4 linked regions of the Homo sapiens genome follow. The protein of the gene in region 3 purifies or fractionates together with the protein of the main gene of each other region. This does not show direct contact. Each region holds a gene or a part of one and is shown on either strand. Other genes may lie near its edges.

What was found.
Region 1: the proteins of RANBP2 (region 3) and KIF5B purify together in Homo sapiens (affinity purification with western blotting; 2 studies listed by BioGRID and IntAct, with this or other methods). This does not show direct contact.
Region 2: the proteins of RANBP2 (region 3) and RAPGEF3 purify together in Homo sapiens (affinity purification with western blotting; 2 studies listed by BioGRID, with this or other methods). This does not show direct contact.
Region 4: the proteins of RANBP2 (region 3) and IPO5 purify together in Homo sapiens (affinity purification with mass spectrometry; 2 studies listed by BioGRID and IntAct, with this or other methods). This does not show direct contact.

What each region holds. Positions count from the first base shown.
Region 1 is NC_000010.11:32,021,816-32,025,569, forward strand, and holds part of KIF5B (kinesin-1 heavy chain), read right to left. Parts: intron 1,222-3,754; coding exon 1,033-1,221; intron 443-1,032; coding exon 325-442; intron 1-324. UniProt on the Homo sapiens protein: Microtubule-dependent motor required for normal distribution of mitochondria and lysosomes. Can induce formation of neurite-like membrane protrusions in non-neuronal cells in a ZFYVE27-dependent manner.
Region 2 is NC_000012.12:47,748,771-47,752,524, forward strand, and holds part of RAPGEF3 (rap guanine nucleotide exchange factor 3), read right to left. Parts: intron 3,200-3,754; coding exon 3,146-3,199; intron 3,060-3,145; coding exon 2,953-3,059; intron 2,751-2,952; coding exon 2,629-2,750; intron 2,492-2,628; coding exon of another isoform or gene 2,447-2,491; coding exon 2,278-2,446; intron 1,656-2,277; coding exon 1,571-1,655; intron 1,221-1,570; coding exon 1,160-1,220; intron 1,048-1,159; coding exon 971-1,047; intron 767-970; coding exon 620-766; intron 162-619; coding exon 49-161; intron 1-48. UniProt on the Homo sapiens protein: Guanine nucleotide exchange factor (GEF) for RAP1A and RAP2A small GTPases that is activated by binding cAMP.
Region 3 is NC_000002.12:108,717,846-108,722,361, reverse strand, and holds the start of RANBP2 (E3 SUMO-protein ligase RanBP2), read right to left. Parts: upstream 2,881-4,516; 5' UTR 2,756-2,880; coding exon 2,684-2,755; intron 1-2,683. UniProt on the Homo sapiens protein: E3 SUMO-protein ligase which facilitates SUMO1 and SUMO2 conjugation by UBE2I. Involved in transport factor (Ran-GTP, karyopherin)-mediated protein import via the F-G repeat-containing domain which acts as a docking site for substrates.
Region 4 is NC_000013.11:98,016,031-98,019,784, forward strand, and holds part of IPO5 (importin-5), read left to right. Parts: intron 1-698; coding exon 699-821; intron 822-2,454; coding exon 2,455-2,674; intron 2,675-3,550; coding exon 3,551-3,754. UniProt on the Homo sapiens protein: Functions in nuclear protein import as nuclear transport receptor. Serves as receptor for nuclear localization signals (NLS) in cargo substrates.

The sequences.
Region 1 (3,754 bases), on a different chromosome or scaffold from region 3:
TAAAAAATTAGCCAGGCGTGGGGGCATGTGCCTGTGGTCCTAGCTACTAGGGAGGCTGCAGCAGGAGAATCACTGGAACCCAGGAGGTGGAGGTTGCAGTGAGTCAAGATAGTGCCACTGCACTCCAGCCTGGGCAACAGAGTGAAGACGCCGTCTCAAAACAACAACAAAAAAATGTTTCAAAGCAACATTAATATGTATGATTTGTTTACCATTCGAAATCAGCCATATTCCTACTATTTCTTTCAGTGTGAATATTAAGTTTACTACAATTATACTAAAATAAGAACACAGATGTAACTCATAAACAGTTGGAAGCTATACCTTGTGCTCGAAGCTGGACTAGTTCTTCACTGAGGGCATCGACAGATTCCTCCAACTGTCTTTTCTTTTGTTCCACATTTTGAAGGTATTCAGTCAATGACTTGATTTTGGCTTCATGCTTTTGGAAAAAATATACTGATATGAAGTGGAAAACATATGCATACACTTTAAGAATATTTGACAGTAAACATTTCATTATCTATATATGATAAATTTGGGAATATTTAAAACTAAAATATTCAGGAGCCAATTTTGAAATGTTAAAGAATGTAATCAATTAATTCATTGGTGATCATAACTTGCAAACTAAGGCACTGAAGACTCAAATATGAAATACTAATTTTACAGATACCACCATCTAACGTTACCATCTTCCCTCCTTGTGAAATTCTGATAGTGGTGAATGGCCCCATTCATTCAGTTGCCAAGCCAGGAAACTGGTTCCCTGCAGTTTTGCCCACCCTGGAATTCTGAAGTCTTTAACAAGTTACCACCAGTCACATCATTCTGGTAAATTTCTATACATAACCCATATTTATGTTAGGCAAATATAACTCAGTTAAATCATTCAAATTTACTGCAGCTAGACTAGGAAAAAAACAACTAAATTTCACCTATAGACACACATTTTTCTGAAAACTTGTATAATAAATAAAATTTCTATGTGGCTGTTTCAAAAAAATGAATAAACTTTGTTCTATAACATACTTGAGAGATACGAAGCTGACATGCTGCTAACTCCTTTTCATTTTCTTCCATTTTTTTGTTGCTCTCAGTTTGTGTGCTTTCTAACTGCTTGCAACGTTTCACCATGGTTTTTACTTCTGACTTCATTTTGCTAATGTAGAGTCTTGCAACAGTGAACTCTTCATCTATCATGCCAGTTCCCTCAGGCTGCTGTAAGGAAAAAGTAAAATAAAAAATTAAAGCCAAAAATGTTCAATGTGTGTTTTCCCAATTAGGCTATAAAATCTTTTTATAAAATATATTTTAGTATTACTCAATATTCATACAAAGTCTGGATCTTATTTTTTTCTTTTATTACTGTTTTCAACGAAAGGTAAATAAATACAGCTTACTTTTTGCCTTCCTTTTTTTAAAAACTGAGAATAATGTTAATACATGCCAACAAGAAAAATAAATAAATGTAAACCTAAAGAAAACACAAAAATACAACCAAACTAATAAATTCTGCCTCTTTCAATTTTTTCACTTCCTCTTTACAGGACCTCTTCAGTAAATTCATTGTTAATCATGTGCACGTTCAGCTTAAAATTTAACAAGAGGATGTTTAGGTGGCAGGGAAAGGATGAACTTTAAGCTCAACCAGAAGGAATTGTGGTCACTGTATATTCCTTCACCTTCAGGAAGAAATAAAACTGTGCAGATGACATGATTAAGTTTACATGTAAAGTCAAAAGACCCTGAATAGCTAGCACAACACTAAGGACAAACAAAGTCACAGGACTTGACACTATGCAACTTACTGTAAAGCTATAATAATCAAAACAGTACAGTGCTGGCAAAGAACAGATAAACAGGTTAACAGAACAGAATAAAGAGCCCAGGAATAAAACCACAAAATACAGTCAACTGATCTCTGACAAAGGTGCAAAGGCAATTTAATGGAGGGAGGACAGTCTCTTCAACTGGACATCCAGATGTGAAACAATGAATCCTGGTACACACCTTACCCCTTTCAGAAAAATTAACTCCAAATGGATCATAGATCTAAATGTAAATGCAAAACTGAAAAAAAAACTTTTAACACAGGAGAAAATCTAGGTGATATTGGGTTTGGTGACAAGTTTTTAAATACAATACCAAAAACACAATCTATTAATGTAAAACTTGGTAAGTTGGACCTCATTAAAATTAAAAATTTTTAGTCTCAAAAAATGACGTTGAGAGTAAAAAAAAAAAACAAAAAAAAAAAAACAAGACACAGAGAAATAATGCAAAACACTATCTGATAAAAGACTTATATCCAAAACATATGAAGAACTCTTTTTTTTTTTTTTTTTTTTTTTTTTGAGACGGAGTCTCGCTCTGTCGCCCAGGCTGGAGTGCAGTGGCGGGATCTCGGCTCACTGCAAGCTCCGCCTCCCGGGTTCACGCCATTCTCCTGCCTCAGCCTCCCAAGTAGCTGGGACTACAGGCGCCCGCCACTACGCCCGGCTAATTTTTTGTATTTTTAGTAGAGACGGGGTTTCACCGTTTTAGCCAGGATGGTCTTGATCTCCTGACCTCGTGATCCGCCCGCCTCGGCCTCCCAAAGTGCTGGGATTACAGGCGTGAGCCACCGCGCCCGGCCGAAGAACTCTTAAAACTCAACAATAGGAGGCCAGGTACGGTGGCTCACGCCTGTAATCCCAGCAATTTGGGAGGCTGACGCGGGCAGATCACCTGAGGTCAGGAGTTCAAGACCAGCCTGGCCAATATGGCGAAACCCAGTTGCTACTAAAAATACAAAAAATTAGCCAGGTGTGGTAGTGGGAGCCTGTAGTCCCAGCTACTCGGGAGGCTGAGGCAGAAGAATTGCTTGAACCCAGGAAGAGGAGCTTGCAGTGAGCCGAGATCATGCCACTGCACTCCAACCTAGGCGACAGAGCGAGACTCCATCTCAAAATAAAACAAAACAAAACTCAACAACAGGGCCAGGCGCAGTGGCTCATGCCTGTAGTACCAGCACTTTGGGAGGCTGAGGCAGGCGGACCACCTGTAGTCAGGAGTTCGAAACCAGCCTGGACAATATGGTGAAATCCCATCTCTACTAAAAATATAAAAATTAACCAGGCGTGGTGGTACGCGCCTGTGTTCCCAGCTATTTGGCAGGCTGAGGCAGAAGAATCACTTGAACCCAGGAGGCGGAGGTTATGGTGGGCCAAAATCACGCCACTGCACTCCAGCCTGGGTGACAGAGCGAGACTCCGTCTCAAAGAAAAAGAAAACCTCAACAATAAGAAAAAACACAACTGCAAATTAAAATGACAATAAAATAACACCATACATTAGTAAAATCCCAAGAAACTGACAAGAGCAAACACTGGCAATGATGTGGAACAGCAGACTCTCATTCATGGCTGATAGGAATGCAAAATGTTTCCACCACTTTGGAAGACCATTTGGGAGTTCCTTACAAAGCTAACATAGTCATAACGTACAACCTAGCACTTCTAGGTATTTTTACTCAACTGAACTGAAAATTTATGTCCAAAGAATAACTTACACATGAATTATTATTATTTTTTTTGGAGACAGAGTCTCACTCTGTCACCTAGGAAGGAGTGCAGTGGTACCATCTTGGCTCACTGCAACCTCCACTTCCTGGGCTCAAGCAATTCTCGTGCCTTAGCCTCCCAAATAGCTGGGACTATAGGCGTGCACCACTATGCCTGGCTAGTTTTTTTATTTTTTGTAGAGATGGGAC
Region 2 (3,754 bases), on a different chromosome or scaffold from region 3:
AAATGAAAGGAGGGACAGTGTGGAGAGGGAGCATGGCAGGTGTATTACCGGTTCCTGCCTGGGGTTGGGGGTCGGGAAGGGCCGGCGCCCTGAGAGGCTCTCTCCAGCACCAGCACCACTTTGCCATGTTCTTCCAGCCGCATGGTCTTTGCCTCCACATCCTGGAGAACAGGCCACATCCCATGCTCAACTCATGATGTTCCAGCTTTAGACCCTCTCATCTACCTCCTTCATTCCAGCCCCTGAGCCCCATGAGGGTCCCACAGGGACCCACAGCCCTTCTCCCACCTCCGACTTTGGCTCCACCTCCTCAGCCTTCCCTACCTTCCATGCATCCTGCCTCCCCCACAGCCTAGTCCCCCGCCCCCTGCATGCCCATCCTTCCCCTGGTCTCCCACACTGAGCCTGAAGTCACTGGTCTCACTGAACTCCTTCTGTGCCTTATGGGCTTCACCTTCTCACACACACCCAGGGCTATGGTCCCACTGCCAGCTGTCATAGCCCAGCATCTCTTACCTGCCCTGCTTCTTACAGGCCCTCTGCTCTGGTCCCTACTCCTCTCTCCACATCACTTCTCTGGACGAATGGCCCCTGCCCTCCCCAACCCCAGCAGCAGCACCTTGATGATACGGTTGAAGTCCTGCTTGTCCACACGCAGGAAATGACAGTTGTCTTCTCGCAGGATGATGGTGGCTGCCCGGGGTGCATCATTCACCAGAGCCAGCTGTCCAAAATCATCTCCCTCATGCAGGGTGGTCACCAGCCCCTGCAGCCAGGCCTCAGTCTCAGCCCGCCCCTGCCGCCCCTGCCGCCCCCAGCTCTTGCCAGGACAGACCCACGGCAGGAGAACAACCCACACAGGAGACACGGGGTCAGCAGCAGTAGATCAACAAAGGCACTGCCCATGAGGACATGGACCAGGGAGCAGTTAGGACCCAGGGCACTGGGGTGGGGAGGAGGGAGGGCTCACCTTGCCATGGGTCACCACGTTGACAGATCCCTTCCAGATAATGTACCACGAAGTGCCCTTGTCCCCCTGGCTGAACACTGACAGAAGCATACCTCAGACCGGGCCCTCCTGGCACCTACCATTCCTTCACACATCCTTCTGCCCATGTCCAGGCCCTGTGCCTGGCTTCTTATGCCCTGCTGGACTTACACACGGTCCCTGCCTTGCTGTGTGGTTCAAAGAGCAGAACAGCCGCTAATTCTCGCTTCACCTGTGTGGTGGAGATAGGAGAGTCGGTGGCGACAAGTTCATGTGCAGAGCAGCCAGGCTTTTGCTAGGGGTGTGGTTAGGTCCAAAGACACAAGTGCTGGGGGACAAAGATGTGGCCAGGTCAGGTGTTCCCAGGATTCAGCAGGAGACAAAGCAAGTGGAGAAAATGGGCTGAGAGAGGCGGAAGGATTTTCAGACAGGGCAGCGCCGGGGGCAAGAAATCAGACTGAAAATTTCCAGCCATAGATGGAAGTGGAGAAATGCCCTCTGGCCCAGCAGTTGGAGTTTCAGGGAAGTCACAGGAAGAGAAGATGCCTGGTACGGGGCAGGGCTGGGAGGGGCAGGACTGACCGAGTTGGAGAGGTGGGCCACAGCCTTGATGTGCAGCAGCTCCTCAAAGATGAGGTCCAGCTCTTCATCCGTGCGCTGACCTGGGCTGCAGGGACAGGAGGAATGGGAGCACACTGTGAACTGTGGGCCCGTCAGGTGCAGGGAGCCACTCCACCCACCCAGCCGATGCCTGTGCCAGACGGTGCCTCAGCAGTGACAGTTATCAGCAGCAGCTAACCTTTACTGAGTGCGCACATGTGGCAGCGCTTGTGATGAGCATTTTGCATGCATTGTTTCACAACAACCCTAAGGAGTGGTTCTATCATCCTCACTTGACAGAACAGGAACTAGCATGAGGAGGCTCAAGGTCACCCAGCCAGTAGCCAGTCCAGCTGGAATTTGAACCTGGACCCACCGGACTGCAGTTTCCAAAACCCACTTGCTTTCAGCCACAACTGTGTCTCTGAGTGGGAAGGGTCCTCAGAGATCCCCCTGGTCCAACATCCTCATCTACAGAGGAAGAAACTGACTTGGGGGGGTTTGGGAGTGTGGAGGGATCCAGGTCACACAGTGAGTCCGTGGCAGTCAGCGCCAGGGGCTTCTGGGCCAGCCAGGTTCCCTTCCCTCCACAACAGGTAAGGGATGCCCCCAGAGATCAATCTGAGAAACCGTGAAATCTGAGTGCTGTGTGAGGCCTGGGGTCACGGGGTGCAGGGATTCTGACTCACGGCTTTCGAAGTGCCACAGTGAGCAGGGCGTCAGGCCCCCGCTGGGAGAGCAGGGCCACAGCTTCGGCCAACTCCTCCTCCATCTCATGAGTTCTCACGGGCTCGGGCTCGGGCCCGGGGAACCGGTAGAATTGGGCATCTCGGTCCTGGAAGGCCCAGTCGTGTTTCACTGGGGGGCAGAGGCCCAGGCGTGGGGGAGGAGAGGAAATTGAGGCTATGTGGGTATGAAACCCCACTGCGATGCCACCCCTCAGCACTCCCCAAGTAGTGCCTGCTTCCCAGGACTGCCCTGTCCTGTCCCCCTCACTGCCCAGCCCAGCCCGGGGCACCCCACCCTGGGCTCGGGCTCACCATGGCAGAGGGCACCTTCATCCAGCAGCACCTGGCAGATTCCCACAACTTGGCTCCGGGAATGGACCCCAAGTCCCAGGGCCAAGATCCCATCCACCAGCTCCCGGCCAGAGCAGCACTGCCTATGGAAGGTAGAAGGGGACAGGCCAGTGGAAGGAGGGTGGCAGGGAGAGGGAGGAACTATGCATTAGAAAGGCACCCTCTGAGGCCCAAGCCTGGTTCGTCCCTGTGCTAGAAGCAGGGTGAGGCCCAGGTGCCTGACATAAAGTGGAACGGAGAGAAAGCAGTGAGGCTGGGCAAGGAGGCAGCAGGGCCTCCACTCACCGATAGAGCCTAAGGTGGTACTTCCGGTCTCGGATGAGGTTTGGGCAGGTGGCCAGCAGATGCCGATGCAGCTGCCTCCCAGCCCTGAGCACCCGCTCTGTGGAGGCCTTAGAGGGAGGAAGGGCACAGCAGTTCAGGCTCTGAACCCCTCATGGTGCTGCCTGTCCCAGCTCCACCCTGCCCAGGCTTCTACCTGCTCCAGGCTCTCGCTGAAATCCAGGGACTCCTCGCTGTTGGTGAGTGGTGTCTGGGGGCAGCAGGGAAAGCGTGCACATCAGTGTGAGGTCTTCAAGCCCAGCTCTTGGATACCTCCCCTCCCCCATCACTCCCACTCTTGCCTAGGCCCCAACCCCAAATGCATCCATGTGGCCACTCCTTCAGCAAATAAACAAATATTCACTCAGCACCCTGTGCCCCGGGCATCGCCTCTTCCCACCCTGCCATCCTGATCACCAAACCCAACTCAAGGACTGCCTCCCTACAGTTGAGAGCCCTAAGACACCCATTCTGCTTACTCAGGGCCCAGGTGTGCCCATGCCCCCAGGTGAACTGCCCCTGTTGGGGGAAAGAAGTGAGGGAGCTGGAAGGAGCATGAGGACATGAGATAAGAAGACCTGGGAGATGGGAGCCAGGATGTGAGCAGCTCAGGAGGCCTGGGAACATCCGCTCCTGGGCTGGGGTCACAGACCTGATCCCCAGCCAGGTTCTGTGTCCTTCCACAGGCCCATGAGCAGGTGTCTTGCCATCTCTGGGCCTCGGATCAGCCTGGTTGTCAAAACACAAACCCTGGAGCCAGGCTCCT
Region 3 (4,516 bases):
TACAGAATAGCTTCACATGTTCCAAAGTTACTCACTAGTTAATCCATATTCCGCTGAAATCCCCAGGTTCTAATGTAAATGACTTTAAATTTGGGGGAAAAAAAAGACTCTAAGTGTAAGAGAGGTGTCATAATAACCAATCCTCAAAATTCTGCCACCACTCCACTTTATTTAATGGAGAAGTTATGTAGTTGAAAGAACATTCTAACTTCTGTCTAGACCAGTGGTTTTTAATCTTTTGGAAGCCAAGGTCCCCACTAAGAATCTCAGAAAGGCTCTAAGCTTGCTTTTTTTTTTTTTTAAGCTTGTTTAAAAAAAAAAAAATCAGGCTGAGCAGAGTGGCTCACACCTGTAATCTCAGCACTTGGGGCCAAGGCGGGAGGATCACTTGAGCCCAGGAGTTGGAGACCAGCCTGGGTAACATGATAAGACCCCGTCTCTACATTAAAGAAAAAAGCCGGGCATGGTGGCACATGCCTGTAGTCTCAGCTACCCAGGAGGCTAAGGTGGGAGGATGGATTGAGCCCAGGACGTCAACGCTGCAGTGAGCCACGATCCCGCCACAGCACTCCAGCCTGGGAGACAGAAAGAGACCTTGTCTCAAAAATAAAATAATGGCCGGTGCAGTGGCTCACGCCTATAATCCCAACACTTTGGGAAGTGGAGGCGGGGAAATCACTTGAGCCCAGGAGTTCAAGAACAGCCTGGGCAACATGGTGAAACCCAGTCTCTACCAAAAATACAAAACAAAACAAAACAGCGGGTGTGGTGGGTACACCTGTGGTCCCAACTACTCGGGAGACTGAGGTGGGAGCATCGCTTGAGCTGGGGAGGCGGAAGGTGCAGTGAGTCGAGATAGCGCCACTGCATCCAGCTGGGTGACAGAGTGAGACCCCACCTCAAAAAAAATAAAATAACACAAAAATTAAAGTCTTTAATTTCAGGAGTTACAGGAACCCTCAATTAAGGTCTGTTTTAGACTCTATCATCACATTCATATTTATACTATGCTAGCAGTTTGAAATTACAATGTACAAGTAGATATCTATCCTCCTCCTCTGGAGGAATAGACTGTAACTTACTCCACTGTTCCCAAGAGAAACTAAATCAGACCCACTGCCAAAATTCTGCTGCACTATCTATTTGACCCTGAACAAGTATCTTAAATCTCTACAGGTCTCAATATCCACAGGGCTGCTGGAAGCGCAAAATAAGATAACCTATGCTTAGTTACGATAAGAGACACAATTATGCTACTATTATAATCATGGTCATCCGTGAGTTTCCGGGTTTTTTTTGTTTTTGTTTTTGTTTTTTTGGAGTCTCCCTCTGTCGCCCAGGCTGGAGTGCAGTAGCGCGATCTCGGCTCACTGGAACCTCCGCCTCCCGGGTTCAAGCGACTCTCCTGCCTCAGCCTCCCGGGTAGCTGGGACTACAGGCATGCGCCACCACGCCCGGCTAACTTTTTTTGTATTTTTAGTAGAGACGAGGTATCAACATGTTAGCCAGGCTGGTCACGAACTCCTGACCTCAGGCAATCCGCCCTCCTCGGCCTCCCAAAGTGGTGGGATTACAGGCGTGAGCCACTGCGCCCCGCCAATATCCTTTTAACATCAACAATAAAAAGTGACTTGTAGCTAACATTTAGTGCTATGTGTCAAGCAATACCCTAAATGTTTAAAATGGATCATCCTATCAAATTCTATTAATGTTACAACTCCATCTATGGATGAAAAGTGTAACTGGCCCCAAATACCCAGCTTATAAACGACAGTGCTGTGATTATTCAAGCCAAAGCAAACTGACTCAAGATTCTGCGCACATCCACCTTTAATAGCTTCTTCCGTCACTCTTTAGATCCAATTACTAAAGTCTTATTGAATCCAAAATAGATCACATTATTTACATGTAAAGAGGAAAAATACCCTTAAAACATTTGTGGAAAAGGTTAAAAATTGCAAGCCATACTAACGATTTGTAAGAACTTTAGAATTTTTTTTTTTTAAGCAAAGGCAGCTACCAAAGTGTTCCGGGCGGGGAGGGGGGCGAGGGAGGTGAGTATGAGGAGCGGAGTGGAGCTGGACCCTTACAAAGGGACAGCGACAAACACCTCATACTCAAAACAAGGGGACTTTCAGTGTCATTTGCGCCGTCGGGCCATTGCAAATGTCCGCGCTGAGATGCCTACCTTGTCACTCGACGCAGCCGCCAAAGCTCACCCGGAGCTGCGTCAGTCCCCACTGGGTTCCTCCAGGCCAAGGAGGTACGACCTCCGCCGCAGCATATAAAGTATATGTCCAGGAGATGGGAAGAAACCCGCCGATACAGCACCCGGGTGCCCAAGCCCCCGAGAACTAGGCCGCGCGGGTACTACGGGGTGCGCGATCGGCCAGAAAGCCCGGGCCAGGGCGGCCCCAGGAGCGAGCACCGTCGGGAACAAGCGTCGGGAACAAGCCGGGAGAAAGAGGAAGCGCCGGCGCCAAAGGTCTCCCGCCCACCGCTGTCCCCCCAGGACTCTTCATGCGCTTGCAAGCGCCACGCCGCCCACAGGACTGCGCCAGCCGGCCGGCGCCTCAACAGAGCGCGCCAGGGAGCAGCGCCCGTCGGGAGCCATGACGCCTGAGCAGCGCGAGGCCGCCGCCCGGCCAGGTCGAGGCCGTCGGTCTCTTCGAGACCCACTCACCTGTCGAGGCGACGGGGTGGAGCCCTGCACCGAGGCGATGTACCGCTCCACGTCAGCCTTGCTGCGCCTCATCGCGCCGCCAACCTGGCTCCCGAGGCGCGTGAGACCAGCGCTCAGGCCCGCAGCAGTCGCCACTTCCAAGAGGAAAGCGCCTGCAAACCAGTGACGCAGCGCCGTAGCCGGCGGAGGACCACTGTGACGAACTTGCGGCGCAGCCGGCGGAGGACCACTGTGACGAACTTGCGTACTGCGTCAGCAGTGTGCGCCACGTTGGCGACGTCGGCGCTCGAGCTGCACTCGGCCAGGCTCTTGGCAGCGCCGCGTGCTCTGAGGGTGTCTTGGCAAGCCGGGATCAGATTTCGGCCGCCAGTGTCCACAGCCTAGGGCGTAGATTTCCAGCAGATAACAATTTGCGTGATGGGCTCTTAAGCGTTTTGGTCACTTGTTCTAAATTATAAGTGCGCAATGCATTGGAAGAAAAAAAGCACTCAGGCCAATTTGGTGAACGTGTAAATTGGAACAAAGTTTCTGGAGATGACTGGTTAAATACGTTGCATCGGACATGTGTGAATACTAAAGCATACATTTTTAAATTCATATCTTATTAAATGAGGGCCAGGCGTGGTGGCTCACGCCTGTAATCCCAGCACTTTGAGAGGCCACGGCGGGCGGATCATGAGGTCAGGAAATCGAGACCATCCTGGCTAGCACAGGGAAACCCCATCTCTACCAAAAATACAAAAAATTAGCCGGCCGTGGTGTCGGACGCCTGTAGTCCCAGCTACTCCGGAGGCTAAGGCAGGAGAATCGCTTGAACCCGGGAGGCGGAGGTTGCAGTGAGCCGAGATTGCGCCGTCTGGGCGACAGAGGGAGACTCCGTCTGAATTTAAAAAAAAAAAAAAAGGGAGATTTAGAACTGCATAATGAAAAAGACCACAAATATTAAGTTTTGGACAATTACAATTTTTTAAACAGTCATCTCGGCGGGGGATTGGTTCCAGAACCACCGTCTTATGCCAAAATCCACGCATTCCGCCGGGCGCTGTGGTTCACGCCTGTAATCCCAGCACTTTGGGAGGCCGAGGCGGGCGGATCACCTGAGGTCAGGAGTTCGAAACCAGCCTGGCCAACATGGCGAAAGCCCATCTCTACTAAAAATACAAAAAATTACCTGGGCGTGGAGGTGGGCCCCTATAATCCCAGCTACTCGGGAGGCTGAGGCACGAGAATCGCTTGAAACTGAGAGGCGAGGGTTACAGTGAGCTGAGATCGCGCCACTGCACTCAAGCCTGGGCGAGAGTAAGACTTCCTAAAAAAAAAAAGAAGAAGAAGAAGTCCGCGCATTCTCAAATCCCGCAGTCAGTCCTGCGGGTGGAACACTTAGAGGAAAAGTCAGACCTCTCTATATGCAGGCCCCTCCAATACTGTATTTTCTGTCGGCTTATAAGCGGGCCCAGGCAGTTCAAACCCATGTTATTCAAGGGTCAACTGTGTATATAGGAATAGCCATTCGCCTGGCACAGTGGCTTAAGCTGGTAGCCCCAGCACTTTGGGAGGTCGAGGCGGGAGGATCCCTCGAGTCCAGGAGTTCCAGGTTACAATGAACTGTGATAGCGCCACTGCATTCCATCCTGGGCACCAGAGTGAGACCCTTGTCTCAAAAAAAAAAAAAAAAAGGAAAAGGAATAGCCCCCCCAAATCTATATATATTTCACTAGCAGAATAACAGAACATACCAAAATTTAACAGTAATAATGTAAAGATTTTGAGCCGTCTGTATTTTCCAAATCTTCAAAAATGTCTATTTTGGGAATTTGGATATTAAAATCTTAC
Region 4 (3,754 bases), on a different chromosome or scaffold from region 3:
ATTTACATACTGCTCACAACAACCATTTGTATTTTGTGGTGCTTTCACTATATTAAAGATGAGTAACCTAAAATTCCAGTGTTAAATGATTGCCTAGAGTCACACTGTTGACGGTCTGGGGCCTTTTTCACCATGTTACTTAGTTCTCTCATCAAACCACCTAGGACTGTCAAGCATACTTCATTGTGTGTTTAGAGTCCAGCATCTCATATGTGGCCACTTGGTGGGCCAGTGCTACCGTGTAGGTAGTACCAGCTTCCTGAAGGTGCCCACATGCTTGTAGGCCCAAATTGCCACTAACAGCGAGACCCCATTCTCCCCACCATCCACCCCGAAATGAGGATTATTCTGCTGAAAACAAAGTAAAAATAGTGAAAACACCTTTGTTTCAGAATGTAGAAATTAGAGATAATTTTTCAACCCATCTATTTTAAGTATGTTCCAAGGAAAATCTTTGCAATAAATACAGTTCTTGCCACACACCTTTGTCTTTCGAGGTAAGACTGGCCTTTGATTAGTAAGAGACATGATAACCCACACTTGAGGGTTACTCCGGTCTCTAGACTCTTGATTTACCCTTAAAACAGGAATGAGAAATTGATTTTCTGCATTTTTTAAGGTTTTTATAAATGTTACTATTGATAATAGAAAATATACTTTTTAATCCATATGAGTGTTTATGTGTATGTTTTTTTTAGGATGATAATGATGTTTATATTCTGACCAAAGTGTCAGATATTTTACACTCAATATTCAGTAGCTACAAAGAAAAGGTGTTACCATGGTTTGAACAGCTGCTTCCATTAATTGTCAACCTCATTGTAAGTGTTACCTCTCTTAATAGTTGTTTTGCGTAGTTTACCTGGAATTCTTTTCACTGCAACGTAAAATCTAATGCTTGAAGTTAAAATGGGTCTCAGAAATGATTGTTTCCATTGTACATCTTTGATTTTATCAAGTTGACTGCATTACCCTGGATATTTTCTCATTCATTATATGCTTGAAGATTCCTAACTTGGTTTTCCATAGGCCAATTCAGTTCTAACACATCTGAAAGATATATAAGTGATTTTTTTTATTATTTCAGATTATCTGTGCCCTCCTAAATTAATAAAAGGAAACAGAATGGTTACTTCTTTTTTAGTGGACCATAGATAATTCAATTATCTTTGTTATGTACTACCAGCAATCATGGATTATGGATAATGGGCATATATATATATATATGTATTTTTTTTTTACCTTCTCTCACCCTTATATTTGATTTTTTTAAAATGTTTTATAGACTTCTTTTTGTTTGTTTGTTTGTTTGTTTTTCTCAAGATGGAGTCTTGCTCTGTCGCCCAGGCTGGAGTGCAGTGGTGCAATCTCGGCTCACTGCAACCTCCGCCTTCTGGGTTCAAGCAATTCAGACGCACGCCACCACACCCGACGAATTTTTTGTATTTTAGTAGAGATGGGGTTTCACCATGTTGACCAGGCTGGTCTCCAACTCCTGACCTAGTGATCCACCCGCCTCGGCCTCCCAAAGTGCTGGGATTACAGGCATGAGCCACTGCGCCCAGGCCTACGCTTCCTATTTTAAAGCAGTTTTAGATTCACAACCAAATTGAACAGGAGGTACAGAGATTTCCCATGTGCCTCTGCCCCTGTGCGTGCATGGCCTCAGCACCATTAACACCCCCCATCACAGTAGTAGATACATGTGTTTCTGTTATGGACCTACATCAACACATCATATAATGGCCTATGTGTATTCAGTTTTTTTGTTTGTTTTGTTTTTTTGTATTTTTAGTTGTGTTTTTTTGTTGGGTTTTTAGTAGAGATGGGGTTTCACCATATCGGCCAGACTGGTCTCAACCTCCTGACCTTGTGATCCGCCCACTTTGGCCTCCTAAAGTGCTGGGATTACAGGCGTGAGCCACCTCGCCTGGCTGTGTATTCGGTTTTTAAAAAATATATTATAAATTAGCAGCTATCATCAGATGTTTGGAATTTTTCTTTTTGGCTTTCAATTTTGCATTTTATTGTATTAAGTAGTGCAGTACATTTTTTAAAAGATTCGGGCACACATGACTTAGCCTGTTGAATAAATGCTATAAGTTAAGATCTTTGCAGCTTTTATTATTATTGTATTTTTTTAATGTAGCATTACCATTGTCTTTTTTACAAAGTAAATTTATATACAATGCTTCCACTGTCAGTTCTTCTGTGTGATAGTGTCAGATTGTAGAGTTCTGTAACAAATCATACAAGTCTTTGAAACCTAAATTTTATTAAATCTGTGTATTTGATTGAATATCGTTGGTCACAAGAAGTGGTTGTTACTATGTTTTCTTTTTTCTTTTGCCTGTATGAGGAATATCAATGTAAGCAGATAGTCTATAGTGAATATTTCTTTACATTCTTTGTGTACACCAGTATTTGAAGCTTAAAAGAGAATTTCTTTTGTAGTGTCCACATAGACCATGGCCAGACAGACAATGGGGATTATGCATCTTTGATGATGTCATAGAACACTGTAGTCCAGCCTCATTTAAATACGCAGAATATTTCTTAAGACCAATGCTCCAATATGTATGTGACAACAGCCCAGAAGTCAGGCAAGCAGCTGCATATGGCCTGGGAGTCATGGCACAGTACGGTGGAGATAATTATCGCCCTTTTTGTACAGGTACGTTTGCTTATTCCGTTACGTGCATTTCATTCCAGACATCCTGTGAATCCCTACTTTACTCTCTTTACCACACTCCCAAACATTATTTGCCTATTTCTGCTGTAGTCTGTTTTCAGACATCTCATCTGTAGCATTTAGGATTTTAGATGATAAAAAGATGATTTATTCTCATAGAAATAGAATCAAAGACATCCCCTGCCCCCAGCCTTCCAGGGTGCATTTCTCTTTGCGTTTTGGCAATATACAACAGCCTTAGAATAGGACTTTTTTTTTTTTCTTTAATTGAGGCCCAGGCTGGAGTGCAGTGGCATGATCTCGGCTCACTGCAACCTCCGCCTCCCGGGTTCGAGCAATTCTGCTTCAGCCTCCTGAGTAGCTGGGACTACAGGCGCATGCCACCACGCCTGGCTAATTTTTTCTATTTTTAGTAGAGATGGGGTTTCACCATGTTAGCCAGGATGGTCTCGATCTCCTGACCTCGTGATCGGCCCACCTCAGCCTCCCAAAGTGCTGAGATTACAGGCGTGAGCCACCACACCTGGCAGAATAGGACTTTTAAAACTTACTGGGGAATATAGTTAGGCAGCTTTTAAAGTTTAAGGACCCTCGGGTGATGTGATGAGTACTGTAAATCTGGAGGCCACTAATCTCTCTGGGTCTCTAAGTTAGTAGAGGGCTAGTGCTCCTGTCCATGCTGGGGCAGTCCCCCCTCTGTTGCCATTCTGTAATGACATAGCCAAGAAGACAACACTTCCCATACACTTTAACATTTCTTTACCATAATCAATATCTGAACCAAATACAAAAATACATATATTCATTTGCATGAAAATGTGAGGTTTTAGCTGAACTTCTTTCAAATGCTTATTTTAGAAGCACTTCCCCTGCTGGTAAGAGTTATTCAGTCTGCGGATTCTAAGACCAAAGAAAATGTCAATGCTACAGAGAACTGCATCTCAGCAGTAGGGAAAATCATGAAGTTCAAGCCTGACTGTGTAAACGTTGAAGAGGTCCTTCCACACTGGTTGTCTTGGCTTCCACTACATGAAGATAAAGAAGAAGCTGTTCAGACTTTCA